Homo sapiens: one gene and its partner. The protein of the gene in region 1 interacts with the protein of each later gene in a biochemical or structural test. Each region holds a gene or a part of one and is shown in the gene's direction. Other genes may lie near its edges.

Region 1 (7,517 bases):
AGAAATTGCAGTGAGCTGAGATCACACCACTGCATTCCAGCCTGGGTGACAGAACGAGACTCTGTCTCAAATAAATAAATAAAATTGTCAGTCATCTAAGTGATATTACCACAAGTAATTGTAACTATTGGTTGAATGTAGCCTCGGTAATTACCAATGTTTACAGATTACTTATAGGCCGAGTAAGGCCCTCATATGTTTTTTGTGTTTTTGTTTTTTGCTTGCCTTTTTGTTTGTTTGTTTTTTTGGGACAGATTCTCACTTTGTCACCCAGGCTGGAGTGCAGTGGCGCAATGTCAGCTCACTGCAACCTCTGCCTCCCAGGTTCAAGTGATTCTCCTGCCTCAGCCTCCCGAGTAGCTGGGATTACAGACATGCCCCACCACACTCAGCTAATTTTTGTATTTTTAATAGAGACAAGGTTTCATCGTGTTGACCAGGCTGGTCTTCAACTCCTGATCTCAGGTGATCTGCCTGCCTTGGCCTCCCAAAGTGCTGGGATTACAGGCGTGAGTCACTGCGCCCAGCCCCTTATATGTTTTGTTTGGCACCAATAAACCTCATGAAAATCTAGATTTTTTTAATTATGTGGAGGAGGGTCTGGATTTTCAGCTTCTCAGGAGATCAGGCAACACTGGGGGCAGGTTCTCACATGACAGGAGTTATATGGACTTGTGTACTGCTTCTCCTTTTGGAAAGGTCGTGTGTTCCTCAATTTGCCATGGTCCCTACTATATCTTGCATCACACTCTGCCTTCCTCACTCTTGTTATCTGCTTAATCTCTGCAGGTATTTGAATATGAGTCCCTGCTTTATAACATATACTGGATTCCCAAGAGAAGACATTAAAAAAAAAAATCATAATTCCTACCTAGTGTTAACCTGATTTATCGAAAAGTATGGATCAAAGAACTTTTGATTAGTTAACTAAGCACAAAGCCTAAGCTTAGAGTTGGAAGTGTAACTTTGTTCTAGCTTCTCTTAAAAATCACTGTTGTAAGATGAAAATTATATATGATACTTCATATTGGTTCAGCTTGTTGTTTTTGTTAGCCCTCAATGAATTGAATAGGTCTTCATTTTTTTATGCAGTTAGATGATGGAAAAAATTGGCATTAACCAGTTAACACATACTAAGTATATATGTAACTACATTAACCAAAATAGTTACCTATACTAAGGTTACTAAATGGTTTTCCCTTTTCATCTTAAGATTCATGATCTTATTTTGTCAAAGTGGAACAATGCTTTTTTTTTTTCTTTTGAGACAGAGTCTTGCTCTGTCGCCCAGGCTGAAGTGCAGTGGTGCGATCTTGGCTCACTGCAACTTCTGCCTCCTGGGTTCAAATGGGACTACAGGCATGTGCCACCACGCCCACCTAATTTTTTTTGTATTTTTAATACAGACGGGGTTTCACCATGTTGACCAGGCTGGTCTCAAACTCCTGATCTCAGGTGATCTGCCTCCCAAAGTGCTGGGATTACAGGCGTGAGCCACCGCATCCGGCCAATAATAATGCTTTCTAAGCAGGTGTTCACTTTAATTTTTTTTTTTTTTTTTTTTTTGAGATAAAGTTTCGCTCTTGTGACCCAGGTTGGAGTGCAATGATACGATCTCGGCTCACCACAACCTCTGCCTCCAGGGTTCAAGCGCTTCTCCTTCCTCAGCCTCCCGAGTAGCTGGCATTACAGGCATGCACCACCATGCCCGGCTAATTTTATATTTTTAGTAGAGACAGTGTTTCTCCGTGTTGGTCAGGCTGGTCTTGAACTCCTGACCTCAGGTGATCCACCTGCTTCAGCCTCCCTAAGTGTTGGGATTAGTGTGAGCCATCGCACCCAGCCCCACTTTAATTTCTTTTTTTTTTTTTTTTTTTTTGAGACAGAGTCTCCCTCTGTCACCCAGGCTGGAGTGCAGTGGTGCGATCTCAGCTCACTGCAAGCTCTGCCTCCCAGGTTCGTGCCGTTCTCCTGCCTCAGCCTCCCAAGTAGCTGGGACTACAGGCGCTCACCACCACGCCTGGCTAATTTTTTGTGTTTTTAGTAGAGACGGGGTTTCACTGTGTTAGCCAGGATGGTCTTAATCCCCCACTTTAATTTCTAATTAGTGTTTGTAGCATATAAAATAAAATCCTTTTTCTTTAATTTTTGTGGGTATAACAGATTCGAGCAATGCAGAAAGGAAGTAAAACATTATTTCACTCTTTCAGAATGTGTTTGGTTACGGTAAAAACAAGTGGGGTTTCCACCTATTTCCGATTATGAAAAAGTTTCTCATTTCATTGCTGATGTTTAAGAATGGTCATTGGTATTTTAGTAGAAGGAACACTTGAGAGTTTTCTGTGGCTACTATAATATACTAAATAACCTCTTTCCTCCTTCTCACCCCGCAAGTCGCCCAAAATGTGTGGATGAAGTTGCTTTCCAGGAAGAAGTGGTTGCAGTGCTGAAAAAATCTTTAGAAGGAGCAGATGTGAGTTGCAAATGGTGTTTAATGTCATTGGGATATTTAAGACTTAATTTATTCACCCTCTTTCTTCCTTTATAACTTCTAGCCCTCGTTAAATATCTTGCTCTGTGTACAGTAGGTCCTTGATAACTATTTGTACAATGATAATTAGTTCAAATATTTATTGAGCATCTCCTATTTAATCTTACATAGCAGTGTTACCTAGTATTCAAGTAAAAGTCATAGTAATTAAGACAAACTATGAAACATAGACATAGAACAAGACATAAAACATAGAACAAGACAAACTATGCCCCTTTTTTCATGGGTTTTTATTGGTAAGGAAAGATAGAATAAACAAGTAAACCAATAAATAATTATAGGTAGTAATATGTGCTATAAAGAAGAGCCAGAGATTCCTCTAAAGTATAATTGCTTACTAACTTTAGGATTTGGATTGACCTATAATACAAAAAAAAAATCGAGCTTTGAATTCTGCTTATAGCTCTCTCTTCTGCTGTGATCTGGGGGATAAAGTATCCATGGATAACTTGCATTGTAAATTATTCTGAGATAAGATAAACCCATGTGAAAAATTAGCAACTTAAAGTTGTGTTATGATGAATGCCCAAAGTGCTTTAACAGCTCAGTAAAGTGCTGAAGTGGGATGTGGTTTTTGCTTTAGTTTCAAGATTTGCTTCCTTCCTCTCAATCTGGCTGCTTTTAATTAGAAGTTCTTTTGGGTTTTGCTGCCATCATTCCCTTGCTGAAATTATATTACTACAGTACACATTTTGAAAGAAGTTAAATTTATAAAACTATTTAGAATCTTTTTCTTTACCAGTATGTGTTTTGATTTGACTCGCATACTCTTATACCTTTTTGGCCGGCCACAGTGGCTCACGCCTGTAATCCTAGCGTTTCGGGAGGCTGAGATGGGAAGATCACTTGAGGTCAGGAGTTCAAGACCAGCCTGGCCAACATGGTGAAACCCCATCTCTACCAAAAATTAGAAAAAGTAGCCAGGCGTGGTGGCACACACCTGTAGTCCCAGCTACTCAGGAGGCTAAAGCGGGAGAATCATTTGAACCTGGGAGGCGGAGGGGTTGCAGTGAGCCAAGATTGTGCCACTGTACTCCAGCCTGGGTGACAGAGTGAGACTCTGGTCTCAAAAATAAATAAATAAATAAGTAATAAAAAATAAATAACACAAATACTCTTATACCTTTTAATTTTATAATAGTATAGCATTTTATTTTTTGGTATATTCTGCTTGCATATCTTGGTAACAGTATATACCATTTTAATTGCAGTTGCATAGTAATTACACAGATTGCAGGACAATATCTAATTTAATTACTAGTATCTTCAGCAAATGTAGTGAGATTAAGATCCAGTTCTTTTGTTTTTTTGTTTTTTTTTGTAATTGAGACAGAGTCTTGCTCTGTCACGCAGGCTGGAGTGCAGTGGCGTGATACCAGCTCACTGCAACCTCCGCCTCCCAGGCTCAAGTGATCCTCCCACCTCAGCCTCCCAAGTAGCTGGGACTACAGGCATGCACCACCACACACAGCTCATTTTTGTATTTTTAGTAGAGATGGTGTTTAGCCATGTCAAGTGACCTGCCCGCTTTGGCCACCTAAAATGCTGGGATTACAGGCATGAGCCATCATGCCCAGCCTAAGATCTAGTTCTTGACTTTATGCCACGTAATTTATGAGGCTGAAGTAAGAACTTCAGTTTAATATTTTGTGCACCTTTTCAGACTAAGTTTTGTAAAGAGGTGAAATAGTTTTTTTAATTCAAAAGAGTAAAGGAAAACAATTCATTCAATTTATTTTGAAAGGTTTTAAAGAATTATAAGAAGATAATTTTTTCAGAAATTGATTTTAAGAACTGGTATTCCACATACAGTTCTTGAATGTACTACATATATTAGACTAGTGTATAATTAAGGTTTAATAATTTTACCCTGTTTCAAAGAATTTAAATTATTGTATCTGATAGTTAACCTGGATGAATCGTTACATTGTTAAGGGATGCACAGATCAAAATAATAGTTGTAGACCTTAATTACTAAGAAGCCTGGGAGGTTTTTAAGTTATGAATCTCATAGTTTGTTCTGTAAGCTATATGTTATGAATGTAACAGTAATAGTCTTCTAATTAACATATTTGTCTATGTATTGGTTTATTCATTCATTTGGCCAACATTGACTACTGTAGTAGATGCTAGAATACAGATGTGAATAGAACAAATAAGGTTCTTGGTCTTTTAATGAAGTAGACAGGCATTTTACAATTAAGCCCCACAGTGAAATAACAATAAACCAATGCAAAATGCAACAAACACTAATGAGAGAATAGGAGAGGAGACCTACTTTAGACTGAATGGTTTCTGATTTGTAATGCATTAGGAGTTGGCCAGGCAGAAAGAAGAGGATCAGACTCCAGGTCATGGGAGCAACATATGTTCGGGCCAGAAAGTGCCAAGCTGTTAGAAGCCATTGTAAGCTAGAGCCTGGAAGGTGAAGGAGGTGGTAGGCAGATCATGGAAGTCCTTTAGGCCATGGTAAAAAGCTGAGGGTTTTTTGGTTTGTTTTTGTTTTTCTAAGTGGAATAGTTTTAAGTAGCAAGCAGAGTGGTATCTGATTTAGGTGAAGAATGAATGGACAGGAAGAGGGAGGGTTAGGCAAGAGTGGAAACAAACTCTAATGCCTAGTTTCCTGTGTACACTGATTTCCTTATGTGACAGGACATACTGAAGATTGCACAGTATCATAACAGAGCTCATTAGAATTTAGTTGACTTATTAATTTTCACCACGGATCAGTCGACTGCTTGATAGGAGCCAAACTAGCTAGATACAAGGTATAAAAGAAGGTAGCTAGTGATTTAATTTTATCCTTTCCTCTTCTAATGAATTCTCCCTGATACATGCAAGCATCCTTACAGAGTGCATAATCATGATGTGGAGCAGTGCCTAGTACTTAATATATATCTAGTTTTGGATTTTTTGTTAATATTTCTGTTCTTGGTACTTCTGCTCATCCAAAGCCCTAATTATGTCTTTTTTAGTCCTTTTTCCTCAGTTTTGGCCAAATCCCATTACTCTTTTGGTCTGCTTCCCCTTTGAAGCAGCTGACATTTTGTGTAATATAAAATCTTACCTAATCTTGAGCATAGAGGTGGGATAGGAAACTGAGATTCCCTTTAGAAATAAAAGGTTTCTCATTCCAGCTTTGAAAATTTCACCTAAGTGGATTAGCTATAGAGCAAGCATAAATATTGGTTCAGCTTAAGAGATTAAAAAGACACTTGGGGAAAAAAGTGGTAGTATATGAAAAAGCAGGATTTAAATCTGTCAGTACTATGATATCAGTTATATTAAGAAAACTTTATACTTAGAAATTACGTGCCCTATTAGAGAAGTCATTGCACTATTCCACAGACATTTTTTTCGATCTTCCTTTTCATCTATTTGTGCCAGAATACCATTTATTAAAAATAAAATTTAATTTCTACAGCTTCCTAATCTCTTGTTTTACGGACCACCTGGAACTGGAAAAACATCCACTATTTTGGCAGCAGCTAGAGAACTCTTTGGGTACGTTGAAATCAGTCTGTTTTTCTTTTTTTAAAGATTTGACACCAAAATTCTCTGATATTGCTTTTTTTCCTCTAAAAATTTGCGTTTCGTTTTCTGTAGGATAGTTTTCTATTTCTGATTTTTAAAAATCCCATGAGCCATTTTGTTCCTCCCTCACTCCCCTGAAGAAATCAGCTTGCCTGCGTCTTTTGTGACCTTCATTGTGAATCTTGTTCAAGTGTGGGGAGCCTATGATTTTTTCCATCACTTTCTTTAAATTTTCCATTATAACTTTGGAGTCCAGAGGGCCCAACTTAATGTCCAGTTGTGCTGATAGTTTTATCACCCTCTTAATGATTGTGTTCACATCTGTGTGGCTACATGATAGAATCTGCTGTTTCTGATGGCACTATTTGCACCATCCATTCTTGAGTCCTGCTCTGGACTTCCTAGGCTCTGACTCTGGAGTGGCCAGTCCAGCTCCTTGCCTCAGGTCTCCTGAGCACAAGTGATGGTTGATGTAGTGTGATTCCAGGTACACCAGAAAATCTTCCTGTGAGTCACCTTCTTATGTTCCTCTTCCTAGATTGACCATCTTGGCTTAACCAGCCATTCTAGAGGAGCCCTTTACCTAGAGTTAAAAGATGTGTAGTGGGCTGGGTCTGATATACATGAAACATGCACCAACATAACAAAGGCTGTTTTGAGTTTATCCAGAATTAATATCAGACATACAACTGATAGAAATATCTGAAATCCTACATATGAAAATAGGCTGGGTGTGGTGGCTCACATCTGTAATCCCAGCACTTTGGGAGGCCGAGGCAGGTGGATCACCTGGGGTGAGGAGTTCGAAACCAGCCTGGCCAACATGGTGAAACCCCATCTCTACTAAAAATACAAAAATTTGCCAGGCATGGTGGCATGCACCTGTAGTCCCAGCTACTCGGCAGGCTGAGGCAGGAGAATCACTTGAACCTGGGAGGCAGAGGTTGCAGTGAGCCGAGATCACGCCACTGCACTCCAGCCTGGGTGACAGAGCGAGACTCCGTCTCAAAAAAAAAAAGACGCCACTGAAATCACCAAATGTGTAAGGATTATTAGTTATGTCAAAATGTAAAAGACAAAGGGAGAAGCTGCTATGTGCCTAATATTTTATTTGACAGCAATTTTTTATTCTCAGTAAAATTATAGAAGAACTTTTTTGATTATTCCACAACTCAATCAGATAGAACCAATCTGAATCAGCCTTAACAGTTGTTTATTATTACTTAGAGTAGGTCAGTCCAGATTATACAACTTTTTCTATATCCTTTATGAAATAATGTTTGTCTTTAAAGAACTTACTTTAACAGTGAATTTCATATTTAATATTGTGGCTTTAAAATAGAAAATAGATGCATGTAAATGTTTATGTCCATAAACATGCTTAGGATACCATGCTGATTAGGAAAAATAGAGATGAAACTAAATCACAACT
Region 2 (8,039 bases), on another chromosome or scaffold:
TTTCTCCTCAAAAATAGGATTTTGTTTTCCACTGCATTTTCAGGCTGCAAATTTTCCAAACTTTTATGCTCTGCTTCCCATTTGAAACTGAATGCCTTTAACAGCACCGAAGTCAACTCTTGAATGCTTTGCTCCTTAGAAATTTCTTCCACCATATACCCTAAATCATCTCTCTCAAGTTCAAAGTTCCACAGATCTCTAGGGCAGGGGCAAAGTGCTGCAAGTCTCTGCTAAAACATAACAAGAGTCATCTTTGCTCCAGTTCCCAACAAGTTCCTCATCTCCATCTGAGACCACCTCAGCCTGGACCTTATTGTTCATATCACTATCAGCATTTTTGTCAAAGCCATTCAAAAAGTCTCTAGGAAGTTCCAAATTTTCCTACATTTTCCTATCTTCTTCTGAGCCCTCCAAACTGTTCCAACCTCTGCCTGTTACCCAGTTCCCAAGTTGCTTCCACATTTTCGAGTATCTTTTTAGCAATGCCCCACTCTGCTGGTATTAATTTACTGTATTAGTCCATTTTCACGCTGCTGATAAAGACATACCCAAGACTGGGCAATTTACAAAATAAAGACATTTATTGGACTTACGGTTCCACATGGCTGGGGAGGCCTCATAATCATAGTGTAAGGCAAGGAGGAGCAAGTCACATCTTATGTGGATGGCAGCAGGCAAAGAGAGAGCTTGTGCAGAGAAACTCCCGTTTTTAAAACCATCAGATCTCATGAGACCCATTCACTATCATGAGAACAGCATAGGAAAGATGCACCATCATGATTCAATTATCTCCTATCCCACTGGGTCCCTCCCACAACAATGGGAATTATGGGAGCTAGAAGATGAGTTTTGGGTGGGGACACAGAGCCAAACCATATCAGTATATAAGACTGGGCCAGGTGCAGTGGCTCACACCTGTAATCCTACCACTTTGGGAGGCCGAGGTGGGTGGATCATTTGAGGTCAGGAGTTAGAGACCAGCTTGACCAACATGATGAAACCCTGTCTTTACTAAAAGTACAAAAATTAGCCAGGCATGGTGGTGGATGCCTGTAATCCCAGCTACTTGGAAGGCTGAAGCAGGAGAATTGCTTGAACCTGGCAGGCAGAGGTTGCAGTGAGCTGAGATTTCGCCAATGTATCCCAGCCTGGGTGACAGAGCAAGCCTCCATCTCAAAAAAAAAAAAAAAAAAAAGTATACAAGACTGATCTGTAGTGTTGTATGATGTATGATCTGTATTTCATTGATTTTTATTGTTGTATGAATATATTTCAATTTATCCATTTTCTTTACAGTTAACATTCAGATTGTTTACAGTGGTTTTTGTTTTGTTTTGTTTTTGGGACAGCATCTTGCTCTGTCGCCCAGGCTGGTCTTGAACTCCTGGCCTCGAACTCCTGGTCTCAAGCAATACTCCTTCCTTGTCCTCCCAAAGTGTTGGGATTACAGGCATGAGCCACTGTGCCTGGCCTTCTGCGGTTTTTTGATTATTCTCTGCTTTGTGGTATACAGATATTGCTGAAAATGTCGAAAAGGCCTGCAGATACCCCTTTGGGTAACAGTGATAAGAAAAAGAGGAAGCATTTATGTTTATCTGTGGCACAGAAAGTCAACCTTAGAGAAGTTGGACAGCAGTATAAGTGTGAAAATCTTACAAAAGAGTATGGGATTGGAATGACCACCATATATGATTTGAAGAAACAGAAGGAAAAACTGTTGAAGGTTTATGCTGAAAGTGATGAACAGAAGTTAATGAAAAGTAAAAAAACAAAACCAAAAAAACCCTCCCAGCACTTTGGGAGGCCGAGATGGGTAGATCACGAGGTCAGGAGTTCGAGACCAGCCTCACCAAGATGGTGAAACCCCGTCTCTACTAAGAATACAAAAAATAGCCAAATGTGGTGGTGCACAACTGTAATCTCAGCTACTCAGGAGGCTGAGGCAGAAGAATCGCTTGAACCTGGGAGGCGGAGGTTGCAGTGAGCCGAGATGGCGCCACTGCACTCCAGCCTGGGTGACAGAGCAAGACTCCGTCTCAAAAACAAAAAACAAAACAACCCCCCCCCCAAAAAAAACTACGTAAAGCTAAAAAAGAAAATCTCAATCATGTATTGAAAGCATAAATTCATAAGCATCATAGTGAACACATGCCACGTGATGGTATGCTGATCATGAAACAAAGATCTATTGCAATGAACTAAAAATTGAAGGGAATTGTGCATATTCAACTGGCTGGTTGCATAAATTTAAGAAAAGACAGGGTGTTACATTTTTAAAAAATCTGTGGCAATAAAGCATCTGCTGATCACAAAGCAGTGGAGAAATGTGTTGATGAATTTGCCAATATTTTCACTCATGAAAATCTGACACTAGACCAAGTCTACAAGATTGCTGAAACATCACTGTTTTGGTGTTATTTGCCCCAGATAGATACTAACTATGGCTGATGAGCTAGCCCATAAAGGAATTAAGGATGGGAAGGATGGAATAACAGTGCCGGCATGTGCTAATGCAGCAGGCATCCATAAATGTAAACTTGCTGTGATAGGCAAAAGCTTATATCCATACTGTTTTCAAGGAGTGAATTTCTTTCCATGCCATTATTCTGCTAACAAAAAGGCATGGATCAGCAGGGAAATCTTTTCTGATTGGTTTCACTTTTTTTTTGTTTTTGTTTTTTTTTCCTGAGACAAGGCCTCTCAAAGTGCTGGGATTATAGGCATGTGCCACCATGCTCAGTCCTATTTTGGGTCTTCAAAAATATTTCCATTCTGGATATCTATTCCTTTATAAGAAACCACTCCAATACTTATTACCTTAACAGAGCAATCATTTAATTATGTTCACGCTACTGTGGGTCAGGAAATTTGGACAGGCCTTGACTGAGTGATTTTTCTGCTCTCCCAGGTGTTGAATGGGGTCAACAAAGCTAGTGAAATTCCATCAGTTGCTGGATGGGATCTGAGATGGCTTCATTTACATGCATGGTGCCTGGTGGAGATGGCTATAAGGCTGGTCTCAGATGACCACCTCCCTGGCTTTACATGGTGCTCCAAGAGAGCAAGACAGGAGCTGCCAGTCTTCTTAAAGCTTAGGTCTGGAGTTGGCATAGTATCACTTCCATTGTATTCTTTGATCAAATCAGTCATAGGCCAGTCCAGGTTCAAGGGAGGAGTTTCAAAGCATATGCAGTCATTTTAGATCTGGTATATTTCTGAGATAGAGTATTTTCATGTAAATAAATATTCCTAAAGAAAACAATCTCACAAAGAAGTTACAGTCTCCTGACTTAAGTCTCATTTAAACTCAAGGAAGGCTTCAAATGCCAAAAAAAAAAAAAAGCAAAAGTTAAGAGGAATGTAATATAAAAGACACGTACAACTTTTTATGTCTTATTTACTCATTTATTGATTTATAACACAATGAACATTATAAATTGGTGTAGGTCCTCTAAAATTATGGGCAAAAATTTGTGTGATATGTCTGCTAAGACAAAACCGAGGCACAGTAACTTGCCCTTGGTCACATAAATAGCAGGTGGTGGGGCTGGAGACCTAGCATCCTGGCTTCAGAGGGAACAGTGCAGTGAGGCCCTGTTAATAAGTAACAGTCTGTCTGTAAATTCGGGATAAGAGTAGTCAGTGTCATCATGGGGATAAAATGAGCTAGGCTAGTCCAGAGCTGCACGTACAACAATAGGCGTTTAATAAATACAAGCTGTCAATGCTCAGCCTCTGTTGTATTCCAGGCTGTTCTATCTTTCGCCATAGAAATGTTGGTGTCATAAAGCGCAAGACCCAACAGGGGGTGGATGGGTGAGAATTTCAAAAGTGTAGCTAGAGCCAAAGCTGGAGATACTGCTTTCTCCATTGAACTCTTTATGGTCTAATCTTTCTCTTGAAATCGTACGCAAATGTTTCATTGTATTCCGTGATTCAATTGCTAATCTATTCATATACAACTGGTTTACCCCAAAGCTTTCGGTATCTTTTCTTTTTTTTGAGGCGGAGTTTCGCTCTGTCGCCCAGGCTAAAGGGCAGTAGCTCGATCTCGGCTCACTGCACCACTGCCTCCTGGGTTCAAGCAATTCTCCTGTCTCAGTCTCCCGAGTAGCTGGGACTACAGGCACACGTCACCACCCCCTGGCTAATTTTTGTATTTTTAGTAGAGACGGGGTTTCACCACATTGGTCAGGTGGTCTCGAACTCCTGACCTCAGGTGACCCACCCGCCTCGGCCTCCCAAAGTGCTGGGATTAGAGGGGTGAGCCACCGCGTCCGGCCTCTTGATGAAACCTTATTACAGAATAGATATTTATACATAATATGTAAAACGCACAGCTAAAACATTTATCTTACTAAAGTTGGTAGTAAAAACTTTTCAAAGTTACTATAGGGAAGTGCATTGTCCAGACGTGTAACCGGGAGGTACTTGGGTACCCCGCCTGCCAAGGAAACCAATATCGGATCCCCCTACTTTAGCGCCCCCGCCAAAAACCGAGCTCACACCAAAGCACCGTGGTTCCTCTCGATGTCAGCGGCCCGCCTGCCCTCGGGGCAGCACCTGGGCAGGCGTCGCACCTCCCGCCTCTGGGCGGGACGGAAGCAAAGCTCGCGCCTCCTGACGTCATCACCGCGCGCCACTGTCTTCGCCTTCTTGCACTTCGCGGGAGAAGTTGTTGGCGCGAATGGATCCTGAGCCTCGATAACAGATTCCTCAACCGGCCCACCCGCCAGCCAGCCAGCGCCTTCATCCTGGGGCTGCGATGGTGAGCCGCTGGGGGAGGCCGTGCGGCTCGGGGTCTGGGGGGGCTTTGCAGGCCTGGTGTGGACCGGGCACTCCTGGTATGCAGGGTGGGGGAGGATGGCGGTGGGTGGTTCCGGAGGCTAGCAAAGGCAGAGAAGGGGCCGCACACCGGGCACTGGACGCAAAACTTTCATTGCATCGCGGGCTCTGGCTCTGGGCGGCAGCCAGCGCGCAGGGATTTTGTTGCTACGTGTACTTGCACTTTCCCCCCGCCCCCCACTCTTGGGGGAAGGGAGAAAGGAAGAGAGGAAGGATGGTGGTTTTGGGACGCATTGGTAAAGTTATTTTCTTGTTCGGCGTTGCCCGAACCTCAGTTTGAGTACTGCCTAAAGCGTGGATTTCAAGCTTTGGGTCACGAGGGAGAAGAATGTAACAAACTTTTCTTTCTTAGGGAATATGTTGTGTAGGGCCTTAAACTTTTATCATTAACAGCTCAGCTCGTCTCATCTCCGCTCGTCATTAACGATCACCTGAGCGGTGTTGAGACCGAGGGCATGGAGAGGATATTTTATTTTGTTTAGATGAGTTCATAGGAGTCAAAAGGATAACATGGCTTACTAGGAAAAAGAAGTACAGCGAATAGAAACAGATGCAAGACATTTGACAGCTGTCATCCTCTTACCACCTGATGTTTAAAATCTGAAAAAAACCCAAGCCTCACTGCATAATTCTGGATAAAATGTTCAAACAAATTGAAAGTGAAATGATTATGCAGCCAGCAAAGCAGACATTCCTGATGGTATGGCAATGGATATGGCTCTGTGTTTGAAATATTTTTAAAGGACCATTTAAAATGTTCATTAAGCTAGAAGATACTTAACAATCCGATATAATTTTTTTCAATCATTGGTCAACGTGTCACAGTGACAACATTCTGGGGGGGGGCGGTGAAAATTTTATGCCACACTGGGAAACGTTGCAGGCCTTTGTGTTTCTTCTCAAAAAAGGGCAACAGTAATGATAGTAGCTACCTTGTACCAAGCATCTTCTTTAGGTCAATATGTGAACTGTTGGTTTTCCATGGTTTTTTTTTTTTTTTTTTTTTTTCATTTCAACCCACATCGATGCAGTTTTACAGATGGTGCAAGCACCTTTTTGGAATTTAAACAGTGTATCATATAACTAGTAGGTGGTTGAACTAGAATTAGAATCTTGGTGTTTCTGACCACCATGTTATACTACTTCCCTATAATGATCATCATTACATTTTGGAGGCCAAAGCACTGTGGTATTTTGGAAGCTTGAGACTTGGAGTCTTGAAGATGAAGAACGTGGTAATATTTTAGTTTAATGGTTTATATATTAATTTATAGTTATATTACTATGTTAGTATAGTCTAGTTTAATAGTTACGTGGTCTTGGGCAAGTAAATAGCTTAAGTTTAATCTCTTTAAGCCTCTGTTTCCTTATCTGTAAAAGAGGGGAAAATAATAGCTGCCATAGTGATTGTTTTGGGGATTAAGCAAGATGTATAGGTAAAGCTTCCGTTCTGGTTCTGGTGCCTGGCATGTTAGGCAACTACACAGCTACCAGTGATCTATTTTCTCAGAAAGGACTCTATGGAAAGTTACATAGATTTTAAGAGGCATGGTAGATTCCTCTGTCATTTATGGTGAACATAGCTTGTGTGGTCAACTTTTGATCATTCAGGTGCTTTTACTTTTGGTTCTTTTCTTTCTTTAGTACTCCTGTTCATGGTGCAGATAAAAAATAGACCTCTTCTCAGAAAAGAAATAGGTCAAATTGGTCAGTTTTGTTGTTAGTGGGTAAACATCCTATGAGGTAGATAAGAATTTTGTATTATACTGATATTTAATTTAGCCCTCCAGTCTCTAGTGCAACAATTAGCAAAACCCTAGACTAAAATTGATTCAACAAATGTTTATTGAACACTTGTGCAAAGTTATAAGACAGTAGTTCTTTTTTTTTTTTTTCCCTCAGACTGTGTCGTTGGGTATGAAGGACAGTAGTTCTCAATCTTTGTTTCAGTTACAGTTTCCTTTGATAAATACAGTGAATGATATGCAAATTTTCTGCCCAGAGAAATGCATATGGGCATATACACACCATTTTAAGGGATTGACCTATCTTCTTCTTCTTTTTTTTTTTTTTTTTTTTTTAAAGGCAAGGTCTTGCTCTGTTGCCCAGGCTGGAGTGCAGTGGTGTGATGATAGCTCACTGCCATCTCTAATTCCGGGGTACAAGCGATCCTTCCACCCTGGCCTCCCAAAGCATTGAGATTACAGGCATGAGCCACTGTGCCTGGCCTGTTCACTTATCATCTTCTTCTTCTTCTTCTTTTTTTTTTTTTTTTGAGAGTCTTGCTGTTTTGCCCAGGCTGGAGTGCAGTGTGCAGTCTTGGCTCACTGCAACCTCTGCCTACCAGGTTTAAGCGATTCTTGTGCCTCAGCCTGCCTGGTAGCTGGGAATACAGGTGTGTGCCACCATGTCCAGCTATTTTATTTTTTTATTTTTAGTAGAGATGAAGTTTCACCATGTTGGCCAGGCTGGTCTTGAACTCCTGGCCTCAAGTTGATCCACCTGCCTCAGCCTCTTAAAGTGCCGGGATTACAGGCATGAACCACTGTGCCTGGCCTATTCACTTATCTTCTGAAGCCCATCCATAGACAGCTCTTGCCCTGGGAGCTGCATTGAAAACAAAAATTCCAATTAAAAGTTATCAATAAAGAAATAAAGTACGTGTATTCACACAATGGAATACTGTGCAACCTTTATAAAAATGAGAAAACTTTATACTCTGATATGAAACAATTGCCAAAATATAAAATTTCTCTGGAAAGATACAGAAGGAACCAACTGATAACATTTGTTGCCTCCAGAGATGGGAAATATGTGTCTGAGAGGCAGGATAAGAGGGGGACTTTTTACCCTTTCGAAATTTGAACCACGTAAATAAATAGAAAGAAAATTAAAAATAAAAGAAATAAAGAAGCCATGTAGACAATTTGAATTTCACTGAGATTTAATTGTTTGCACAAAACGTGAATAAAACCTGAGAGATGCCATTTTTAAGAAGTCAGCATATATAATTAATTGGTTGGTATAATTATTGAAAATATGCATAAGATTGAATTAAACACACATGAGACTTAAGGAACAGCTGTTTGAAGAGCCGTGAGGTCAGTTTAAATAAATTGTGGTCTGAACTGTTTCATTGCTCCACTCCTACAGGCAGGCAACTTTCACATCATGGTTTACTATGTGGAATGCTC

Evidence for each region.
Region 2: the proteins of RFC4 (region 1) and RFC1 form a complex in vitro, tested with the Homo sapiens proteins (one study listed by BioGRID).

What each region holds. Positions count from the first base shown.
Region 1 is NC_000003.12:186,796,073-186,803,589, reverse strand, and holds part of RFC4 (replication factor C subunit 4), read left to right. Parts: intron 1-2,394; coding exon 2,395-2,473; intron 2,474-5,975; coding exon 5,976-6,055; intron 6,056-7,517. UniProt on the Homo sapiens protein: Subunit of the replication factor C (RFC) complex which acts during elongation of primed DNA templates by DNA polymerases delta and epsilon, and is necessary for ATP-dependent loading of proliferating cell nuclear antigen (PCNA) onto primed DNA.
Region 2 is NC_000004.12:39,362,968-39,371,006, reverse strand, and holds the start of RFC1 (replication factor C subunit 1), read left to right. Parts: upstream 1-4,644; 5' UTR 4,645-4,765; coding exon 4,766-4,768; intron 4,769-8,039. UniProt on the Homo sapiens protein: Subunit of the replication factor C (RFC) complex which acts during elongation of primed DNA templates by DNA polymerases delta and epsilon, and is necessary for ATP-dependent loading of proliferating cell nuclear antigen (PCNA) onto primed DNA.